Regions from separate parts of the Homo sapiens genome. Here region 1 is linked to region 2. Evidence: fine-mapped expression QTL. Tissue or cell type: whole blood. Region 2 holds a variant in brackets; the other region holds the start of a gene. All regions are shown on one strand. Distances are between the middles of the regions.

Evidence for each region. PIP is the estimated chance that this variant, and not a neighbour inherited with it, causes the effect.
Region 1: BCAS1-AS1 starts here. The variant in region 2 is fine-mapped to the expression of BCAS1-AS1 in whole blood (INTERVAL, PIP 0.99).

The regions. Positions count from the first base shown.
Region 1 is chr20:53,912,413-53,917,797 of GRCh38, forward strand. It overlaps BCAS1-AS1 (BCAS1 antisense RNA 1), which reads left to right and starts at 3,077. Exons shown (of 5, transcript NR_199019.1): 1 at 3,077-3,154.
Region 2 is chr20:53,939,531-53,944,915 of GRCh38, forward strand. It overlaps BCAS1 (brain enriched myelin associated protein 1), which reads right to left. Exons shown (of 13, transcript NM_001366298.2): 13 at 4,011-5,385. It overlaps BCAS1-AS1 (BCAS1 antisense RNA 1), which reads left to right. Exons shown (of 5, transcript NR_199019.1): 3 at 902-1,068; 4 at 1,755-1,865; 5 at 2,645-4,051. Among named protein-coding and RNA genes, the nearest start is that of BCAS1-AS1, 27 kb to the left of the region's middle. The variant C/T (reference allele first, on the strand shown) is at 2,341.

The DNA.
Region 1 (5,385 bases), 27 kb before region 2:
CCTTTGGCCAGTGCTGGATCCTCTCTGCTGTTTGTATCTACATGTGAGAGGGAGGTTTGGGGATCTTATGTGCAAGACTGCTTTCTGTGCTCTCTGTCTCTTATCTCCTGTCCCCAGCTGAGGTAGGAGCCGTCACTCCATCATCCTTGCCCCCGTCGAATGGTGCTTGTCTTCTGCCCCAGCCCTTGCCCTCCTGGCCTGCTGTGTAGTTAGTTCCTGGCATGGAATGGAATCTAAGAATGAAAGACAGGTCGAGCCCTTACAGTTTGCAAGGCCATCTGAGAGGTCTTCGTGTACCTTGATGATGACGGGGTCCTCTCCACAGCCCCAAGTGAAGTTCAAAGGAAAAAGATAATAACGCGGCCGGGCGCAGTGGCTCATGCCCGTAATCCCAGCACTTTGGGAGGCCGAGGCGGGCGGATCACAAGGTCAGGAGATCAAGACCATCCTGGCTAACATGGTGAAACCCCGTCTCTACTAAAAATACAAAAATTAGCCAGTCGTGGTGGTGGGCGCCTGTAGTCCCAGCTACTTGAGAGGCTGAGGCAGGAGGATGGCATGAACCTGGGAGACAGAGCTTGCAGTGAGCTGAGATCGCGCCACTGCACACCAGCCTGGGCGACAGAGCGAGACTCTGTCTCAAAAAAAAAAAAAAATATATATACACACACACACACACACACACACACACATATTCATATATATACGTATATATGTATACATGTATATACGTATATATGTATATATACATATATGTATATATATCCATGTGTGTGTATATATATCCATGTGTATATATGTATACGTATATATACACGTATATATGTACGTATACATGTATATATATACACATATACAGATACATGTATATATACATATATATAAAATAAAGCATAAGATATAATTATATTTTTGGAAATGACACATAACTCTATGTATTATGATGGTTTTCTTTTGAGGTTTCCTCTTTGGTTCTTGAGGAGTCAAATCCCTTCTTTGCTATGCCGTAGTTGCATGTTGAGAGGTCCTGTGCCAGGTGCTCAGGTGCCTGTCATTTCATCAGCTACACACCCTGGAAGCAGGCCTGACTCAATGGTCCCTGCTTTCCCCATGAAGCAGCAGTGACTCAGAGAGATGACACATTTGCCCACGGTCATTCAGTTTCTCAGCTAAATGAAGCTTCATTTAGCTTCATTTCTCCTTCTCTTAATCTCCAGGTATCTATTTATCTATCCATCCATCCATCCATCTTCCTATCCATCTATTCTCTATTGATGTATGTATATATATATATGTATTATGTATCTATGTGTCTATTACCTGTTTATGTTTCTATTACTTATCTATATCTACCCATTTATATGTATGTATGTATCTATCTACCATCTATCTATCCATCCTCTACCTATTTTCCATCTATCTATCATCTATGTATGTATTATGTACCTATGTGTCTGTCATCTATGTATCTATTACCTATCTATCTTTTTAAAAATTTATTTAATAGAGACGGGGTCCCGTTATGTTGCCCAGGCTGGTCTTGAACTCTGGACTCAAGTGATCCTCCTGCCTCGGCCCCCCAAAGTGCTGGGATTACAGGCATGAGCCACCATGCCTGGCTGTACCTATCTATCTTTATCTACTCATCTATATATATTGTATGTATCTATCATCTATCTATCTATCTATCTATCTATCTATCTATCTATCTATCTATCATCTATCAATCATCTATGTGTCTTATCTATCATCTATCTTATCTATGTATCTCTATGACCTGTCTATCTATGTATCTATCTGTTATCTCTCTGGTTATCTGGTCTCCAGTGCCCACCTCCTCCTCCCAGTCTTTTCTCTCACCCTGACTCTGAACTTCTCCAGGCCTGGTGTTATGTTTTCTGTAGCGTGACCTTATAACTAACCATCCCATCGAAGACGCTTGGGGGAGTGAAAGGAGGGGCTATTAATACTTCTGCAAAAACTGGCGCTGCCCTGAGCACACTGGGATGCCTGGTGGTGGTGGTGGTTAGGTGTAGATTTCTCCCCATTCCTTAGTGCCTCACAAGGGTGCTGTAAAACGTTTGTCGAGTGTGTTTTATCAACAGTCTCAGAAGGGGTGGTAAAAAAAAATACTCGTTTGTTTCATACAGAGAGAAATTGCATTACAAAGTGATGACTTACAAAATCACCGAAAGGAAATCAATGGTGAGGTGGAGCCAAACCTCTGCTGTAGAATTTCTGGATTCAGATAACACAGAGCTCTCTCCATCAAGCATTTGTGTGCAGAAGCTAAGCTCCAGGCCCAGGGAGAGAGCTTGAAGCAAAGACATAATAAAACAGTAACAGCTGCTACCGAAGCTGTGTCATGCAACTTTGCTTAGCCCTTTACTGTATGGTCTCATTTATTCCTTAAGGAAGGTGAGATTATAATAGAAAAGGAAAATGAATGTGCCGCAGTCACACAAATCACTCACTACTACACTGCCACCAGAGCCCAACAGAGTAGCCACAATTGTTTTCTTCCTAAAAGGTGCAATGGAGTAATACTGCACAATTTCCATTTAGATGTCCCTTCAACACGTTTCCTGGGAATCTTAGAGCAGTTAACACCCATTTAGAAAGGAGCTTTTTCATTTCGTAAATATGTTCAGTGCACCAAAACAGGCAAACAAGATAACCCGAACTCTTAACTTGCCTCAGCACCTCACCCCTTAAGATACATAGAAACAAATCAGAAATTATGCTCAATAAGGAATTTGCAAGGCTGAGGAGGGGGAGCTGGAGTCAAATCAGCTGGGTCTTCCGCCCCCTTCAGTAGGAGGGGGAAGATTACTGCAGAGAATGTAACAAGGAGAATAAGAGAGAGGGAGGGAGGGGGAAGAGAGAGAGAGAGGGAGGGGGGTGGAGAAAGAGAGAGACAGAGAAGGAAAGGAAGAAAGAAAAAGAGAGAGAATAACTGTTGGTAACGGACAGCCCAAGAAAATTGTAGAAAAGTCCATCTCTGGTACCTACCTGGTGCCACCTTCCCCCCACCCCCGCGTTGTTTATTTATTTATTTATTTTTTCTAGCCACCACCATTTTGTTGCCTGGCAGAGGTGTGAGATGCAAGGCTGTTTACAAAGCCCCCAGCAAGAGCAATCCCATCATCAGGAGGTTTGCTTCCCCCCCGGGCCAGCCCTCTCGCTCTCCATGCCCGTCTTGGCTGCATGCGTTGTACCTAACACATTTAACCCGCGTTTCTTAAGAGTTCTGCAAAATGGTGTCTGCTGGTGTTTGCAAGGGAAGCTCCCGCTGGGCGTCCCGAGCTGGGTGGGAGCTGAGTGTGCGGTTCCCTAACGAGCTGGCGGCCGGCCTGAGCGGCTCTGATCTCCAATTCTGACGGCTTGTCCTTCAGGTGACCTATATTATCTGGCACCTCAGTTGCTGCTCACAAAGAAAAAGTATCACTGGAAGAAAGAAAAAAAAAATCCCAAGTGATTGTGTACATGCTCTTTATTGAGAATATTAAACTCAGACGCCCTCTGCTGGGCAAGACGGGAAGGGGAGGCTGGGAGTAGGGGAGGGTGGCCGGGAGGGCTCAGGAGAAGCCGGGGACGGCCTCCTTCCTGTGAGATCTGTGGGCATGATTCAGGGCAAAGGGCGCCCATCAGAGCTGCTTTAGGCAAAGGGAAATACAAAACAAAAGTGAAACCGCTGACAAGGAAATCATTTAATTGGGGAGAAATGACAACTTCTTCACTTGGATTTTTTTTTTTCCTGTTCCTAAAATTGTTGCTTTTGATAGGTGAGAGGGAATGGGGTGGGGGAGACTGCTGGACACTGCCAACTTATTCATCAAGACAAAGGGTTTGGGTTTCAGGGAAGTCCTAGCAAAGAGTGTGGCTCAGCGGGTAGAAGGGTAGCTGAAATACCAGGACATTTTTGAGAGTGAAACAGAGTGCTATGGATGATGATGCGGACACAGCAGGTATAGTCCAGAGTGTCCCAGGCAAATCTGACTACCTAGTCCAGCACTGCACAGAGAGCTTTCTAGGATGATATGAATGTTTTGCATCTGTCCTGTCCTATCTATCTATCTATTTATTTATTTATTTTTGAGACAGAGCCTTTCTCTGTTGCCCAGGCTGGAGTGCAGTGGCACGATCTCGGCTCACGGCAACCTCCAACTCTTAAGTTCAAGCGATTCTCGTACCCCAACCTCCCGAGTAGCTGGGATTACAGGCACCCGCCACCATGGCTGGCTAATTTTTGTATTTTTAGTAGAGACAGGGTTTCGCCGTGTTGGCCAGGATGGTCTCAAACTCCTGACCTCAGGTGATCCACCTGCCTCAGCCTCCCAAAGTGCCGGGATTACAGGCGCGAGCCACTGCGCCCGGACTGTCCTGTCCTATATGGTAACCACCACCCACATGTGGCTACTGGGCTCTTGAAATGCAGCTACGCAACTGTGAGGGGATGAATTCTTAACTTCATTTAATTTTTGTTATTCTGAATTTACATTTAAATAGTCACGTATGTCTAGTGGCTATCAGACGGTAGAGCTCTGGTCTTACTATTCACAGGAACACACCGTGACCCCCATTGACAGCAGCTAAGACCCCAGGAACAGGCTTGTTGCGAGAGGCCCTCCAAACAATTTATTGAATGAATAAAAACTCAGTAATCAAAAGTCACAGAGATAGAAATTCACAACACTTCTTGGAGACTTATAGGAGCTTCCAGAAACACAACTTCTCCCAGGGAGAGTCAAGAGAGCAGTGTCATTTCCTATAAAATGTCCAAGGCCAATCCCAGGTCCCGGTGTCAGCCCTTGCGTGTGGCACTGGCACCAGCAGCCAGAAAGGTTACTTGTGACTTGTTTTCAGTGCTTTCCTGGGAGTGTCCTGAAAGCTGGCAGTGTTTCTGCCTCGTCAGAAGAGGCCTCATTCATTTGGGGTTGTACCAGCAACTTAAAAAGTTTTTTTTTTTCTTCCCTCTTCCAGTGTTAATAGATTTTGAAAGAGGCATTTTTGTTTCTAATTACAAATTCCTGGGTGATGTCATTAAGCCCTCAAACACCCGGTGAGGGCGGCACTGAATGGGGAAAGACAATATGCTAACAAGTTATCTGAGGGTGTCAGAAAGAAATGATGAAAAACAGTACAGTTGGGGGAAATGTTTTCCAGCCTGCTTTCTGGTTTTAGCGACTGCATGGGAAGAGATAAGACACACATGGCTTTTATAAGGAGCCATCGGGATCTCTAGGGGACATGAGGCAGGAGAAAAGAATTGGGCTGAAAGCATCCAATCATCACATATTCACGGAGAAAGAGATTACAATATAGCAGAGGAAGCTCTTCCAGGGCTCCTACAGGGACCTTTGGGACAAAGATTCAGTGGGCTTT
Region 2 (5,385 bases):
TCCCCATGATAGAATAGCTTGCCTTTCCTAAGTGCTTACAATGTGCCAGCCACTGCACTAAATGTTTGGTATGCACCATCTCACTGCATGCTGGCAGCAACTCCACGAGTAGGCTCTATTATTAGCCCATTGTTGAGGGAGGACACTCAGAGTTTAAATCACTTGCTCTTTAGTTGGGAGTGGAGAAGATGAGAGGTAAGGCTGCTTTGTGGAGCAGGATGGGCCAGTAAGGATTACTTAAATGCATTGCAATGACACCAACTGAAACGTTTTGCAATCACACAATCTTCCTTGAGCTTCTTCCAAGATAGAGCAGATAAGGATGGAAACACAAACCAACCAACCTTATCTTCATTTGGAGGACTGAGAATCATAGAAGGCAACTGACTTGCCCAGTTCAGCTTTCTCGTTCTAGTTCTCCTAATTAAACTTGACTGCTTTCTAGAAGTTAATCAACAAATACACTCTCAGGCTGCTTTGGCCCAGTTTCCCGGTTAGGCAATCAGGGAAAAAGGGCTAGGCATTGTAAAACCCCAGGTCCTGCAGCTCCCCCACGTGGCTGCATTTTGACAAAAGCAAGCTTCTGAGAGAGTAGATCACGTAAGGAACCAGCCCTTCCATGGCTGTCATTAGCAGAAGTGCAGCTGGGGGCCATTTTGTCAAGAAGTGCTTATTTGGAAAAACAAAACAAAACAAAAAATGAAAAAAAAAAAAAAAATCTATACAGGTGCATGCCAGTCCCCCGGTAATGAAATGTAACAAAGGAAGCACTTAAGTTCAGTGAGGGAAATACAGCTTTAAATTACAGATTGTACCCAGAGCACTTTATAAACGGTAATGTGTGATAATGTATTATCCTTACTTCTGTGAAATTGTGGACTGCAACTTCTGCCGGGGCCAGTTAAAGGGCCAGGAGATGGAGAGGGTTGCGTGAATGCCATTCAAGAAAAGGGCAACAGAGGCTAAGGGGTTAAACTCCCCAGAAAACCAATTTATGCAAAGGGCTGGATCCTGACCGGCATTCTGCACTAAAGATCTGAATTACAAATTTAGAGAATTTGCTGCTCGGTAAGTAATTTCTTTTCTTCCTAATGGAGACTATAATTTCCAGTGGGCCGGTGCCACTTAATTTGCACTGATAGAGTGAACAAAATCTTGACCACGGAGAAGCCTAATTCTACTCACCGTGCAAAATTGCCCTTTAAAAAGGCTTAAAGAGGGACATTCAAAGGATGGTTAAAACCAACCCCTATAATCTTACATTGCTGCAAAGCACATTCCCTAGTTTCCCCTGTGTTTGTATCTTGGGTTAGTTAATAATTGGAATTAGTTCTTTTTCCTTCCCTGTAAGGTAGGTAGTGTAGCTGATTTTATTTTTTTAAGGTATAAGATCTACTTGGGATTATCTGACATAAGAAATAACATTGTCAGATTCAGATTGGAGAAATCTGCACCCTTCCAGGCACTCTGAGAAGGGAAAGGACACAGATTCTTGGTTTCTTGAAATCTAATTCTTTAAGACACTTAGAATCTAATTTAATGAGACCCCAGTGCTTCTGGACTGTTTGCAAACAGACAAGAACAATCTAGTGTGTGTGAAGTGGGAGGAGGGAGGGGAGAGAGTGTGTGTTTAAACCCCTGATAATTTATCTAAAAAGCAAGGGGATACATACAACAAAGACCAGGAATTTCACTTTCTTTCTCTTTTCCTTCCCATTTTGGTTTCTATTTTGTTATGTGCCTCCTTCTCCAAGACAACGAATGCAGGAAGGACCTCACTGGCTGCTGGGAACAACTGCCCTTTTGAATGAATTCTTTTATGGTTACCAGTCAAAAAGTCACCGTCAGCTGGAACTGGAAGGGAGGTGTGTGTGTGTGTGTGTGTGTGCGCGTGTGTGTGTGTACGCGCAGTGGCAGCCATTTCAGCTCAATAGCTCCATTCCTGGAAAGGCCACTTCTTCTTGACATGGGAGAAGACACACTTCCCTGTGTACCTAAAAATAAATAATAAGTAAATAAATAATAATAATAAGAAAGTCATTTTTGCTCCCTCCCCCAGGTCTTAATTCTTCTTTCTCTTTTAATCATGTTTTTCTGTGTGCCACCTTTGCTTTGCTTATTTCCCCCACTGCTTGTTCTGTCTGATGGCATTTCTGGGAATCTGTGTCCTAAAGGCTTTCTTGGGTTTATTGGTGAGTTTCAGCTCTTTTTCACTCTAGTTCTGCATAAGGGGTGGGCATTAGTATTTATTGTAAATGCATTGGAAATGGGATCTCAACAACAATAACACACACACACACACACAAACACAAAAATGGAGTATTAACTTGTTTCTTAAGC[C/T]ATAACTGAATTTAGAGTTCTCCCAGTAAGTCATGCGCTTTACTTCTCTCTGGCATTTCTTGCTTTTTTAAAAAAAAGCAATTTCATTAAAAGACTATTCTCTTTTTTGGCCCAGGAGCATAGGAAACCAGTTATAAAAACTGTTGGCATGCTTTGCAGAGAGATTCTCAGCAAAGAGGCTTTTTTTTTGTTTTATTTTGTTTTGTTTTGTTTGAGTGGGGGCTTGGGAGGGCTCCATCTGCCTTAGTAACTGGCTAAGTAACTGGCCTGGGCTACTCAGTCTGTTTCTCTTCCTCCTGCCTAGGGGCATTTCTTATCTGGGCAAAAAGCCCCTGTACCCAGCGAGGTGAAACTTGCAAATGATACTGTCACCTTCCTCAATGGACTGCAGCTCAGGAGCTCACCAAAGGTTGCAGCAGACAACCCCCACGGTGTTTGGAGACAAAGGAATAGCAGCTGCCTGGTTTCCTTGAATCACCCCGTGCTCTGACGATGGCAGTGATGGGCCTCCCACCAATGGCTTCCCCAAGTGCTGTTTTCCTGCTTCATGCCAAGTTAAGCATTCTGATACTAAGCGGCACGAGATAGTTCTCAACTGGGTGAGGCACAGGTGTGAGTAATCTCGAGGTATGGTCAGGAGGTTTGAAAAAACTAACCCAGCTGCAAGGAAAAGACCTCTGGTCTTTATTGGAAACACGAATTTGACCTGTCCAAGCTGGGAGCTAATAGGCCCCAGCAGCTCAGGATCCCCTCCTCACTTACGCTTGGGTTTTGAGTGATACCATATTTTTCTGAACACATTTTCCAAATGCCTATTTGCCAAAGCCGTGGTGTAATTTGCCTAAGCAGCAAACTTGTCCTTAGAGTCGAGGTCCATCCACATCAGGAGAGTATATTCAATGTTTATCTCCGATCAATGTGTGATGAATTGCATATGAGATAGATTTGTGTGAGCCAATGTGTGTGTGTGGATCTGTGTTAGTTACATGTGTTTATTTGCATGTATGTAAATATGACTGTGTGAGTGCATGGATCTATTCCTGCATGATATATATTTATATATATGAATATGTGCATATATATGCAAATATGGGTATAAATATGTATCTGAACATATAGGTGTGTATCTGTAGTGGACACTGTCAATGCACTCATCCTCCAGTTACTTAGGCATCCCAGCTTCTCAGCTCAATGGGGGCCGCTTGCCCATCCCCCCACCTCCCAGGGCAGCCCAGAATTCACCTACCAGGGTTCAAAGGCTGGCTCCCTTGACTCAAGGTCAAACTATCTGGGTGGTGCAATTCATGCTCCAGTTGAAACCAACCCTTGCCCAACTCTTTTCTTGCCCTCTTCTTTTTCTCTTACTCCCTTTCCCTCGGAGCCCACTCTCAGTATATCCTATGCGTCCAAATCCCCATCTCAGGCTCTGCTCCAAGCAACCTGGCCTAAGACAGCACTATTCTATACATGCATGTGTGTGTACATGCAAACATACAACTGCACACATTTGTGTGTGTGTGTGCCCATATACAAGGAAATCCGGGAAGATCTGGGAGAGAATGATCTTCCAAAGAAGATAATGGAGAAAGAGTATGGATTTTATAATGTAGAAGTTAGAGTCATCTCAGATATAGAGTGGGACTGCTTTGAAGTTGAAAATTAAAAGATACTTTAGAAGTAAATGTATTTTTTATTAAATCAGAAAAAGAAAGATACAGTTTACATGACTGTCAGTCAATCATATGCTACTTTGAATTACATTTTAATAGACTCAGGGTCCTATTTACTCCTTTGTACAGGTATTAAAAACAACTCAGGTATTTGAGAAGTCTTCTGTAAATTTTTATTAACTGAGGTTATGGGGAGGGTTTTATCAGAGCACATCCTGAGAACATTAGGAATGACAGACACACTTGAGATAAGTGTCAGACGGAACAGATGAAGCGAGCCCCTCAGCCATCTGAGAAACATTAATAATGTAAGATAGCAGAGACCAAATCTTTGTTAGGGATACAGTATTACAGGATAAAAATGGGGACCTTGCCGCCCCCTTGTGTTGCAAAATAACCGTGCAACTTCCTTTATTTTTTATTTATTTTTTTTTTTTAAGTTGTAATCTTTGCCGTTGTCACTGAGCCTCAAAAGCAATTGTTTTCCCAAATCATTTTAAGCCCTCCCCAGTCAATCTTTTCCCTCTCATCAATAACTTACAAGGACCCTATTTGAAAAACAACGCTTATTCATTCCTTTTTCTATACCCCACACATTCCGTTCTAGGAAATTGGCAACCACCCAACACAGCCCGGGTTCTCCCTCCTTGAGATGTGAATTTAAACAAATGGATTTTCGTCTCCCTTCTTCAAGCTTAGAGGATAAGCACGCATTTACTACAACGCTTAATTCCTTCTAGCAGCATTTCTCTTCTATAACTTACTTGCCACTGCCTTTTTTTTTTTTTGATAGAATCTTGCTCTGTCGCCCAGGGTGGAGTGCAATGGTGCAACTTCGGCTCACTGCAACCTCCACCTCCTGGGTACAAGCGGTTCTCGTGCGTTGGGCTCCCGAGTAGCTGGGACTACAGGTGTGTGCCACCATGCCTGGCTAATTTTTGTATTTTTAGTAGAGACGGGGTTTCATGATGTTGGCCAGGCTAGTCTTGAACTCCTGACCTCAGGTGATCCACCTGCCTCGGCCTCCCAAAGTGCTGAGATTACAGGCGAGAGCCACCACGCCCGGCCACCACTGCCATTTTCATCACTTAACCCGAACACATTCCTCTATTCCCTCCCTTTCCTGCTTGGTGATCATCGACTCTTCTGACCCAACTAGGTGACCTGCTAAACCATCTTTACTGTTATTTGCCAGAAAAGACTGGACCAGAGACGTAAATAATACACCTCAATATACAACAGCTCGGGCTTAATTTCTAGGCAGAATTTCATTTGCTGGCCATCAGAAGAATATATACATGGAGCGTGTTTGGGGAGGAGATGGAGTAAGGAGAACACATCTTGGTGGCAGGAGAACCTGGTGGGAACCGTGCTG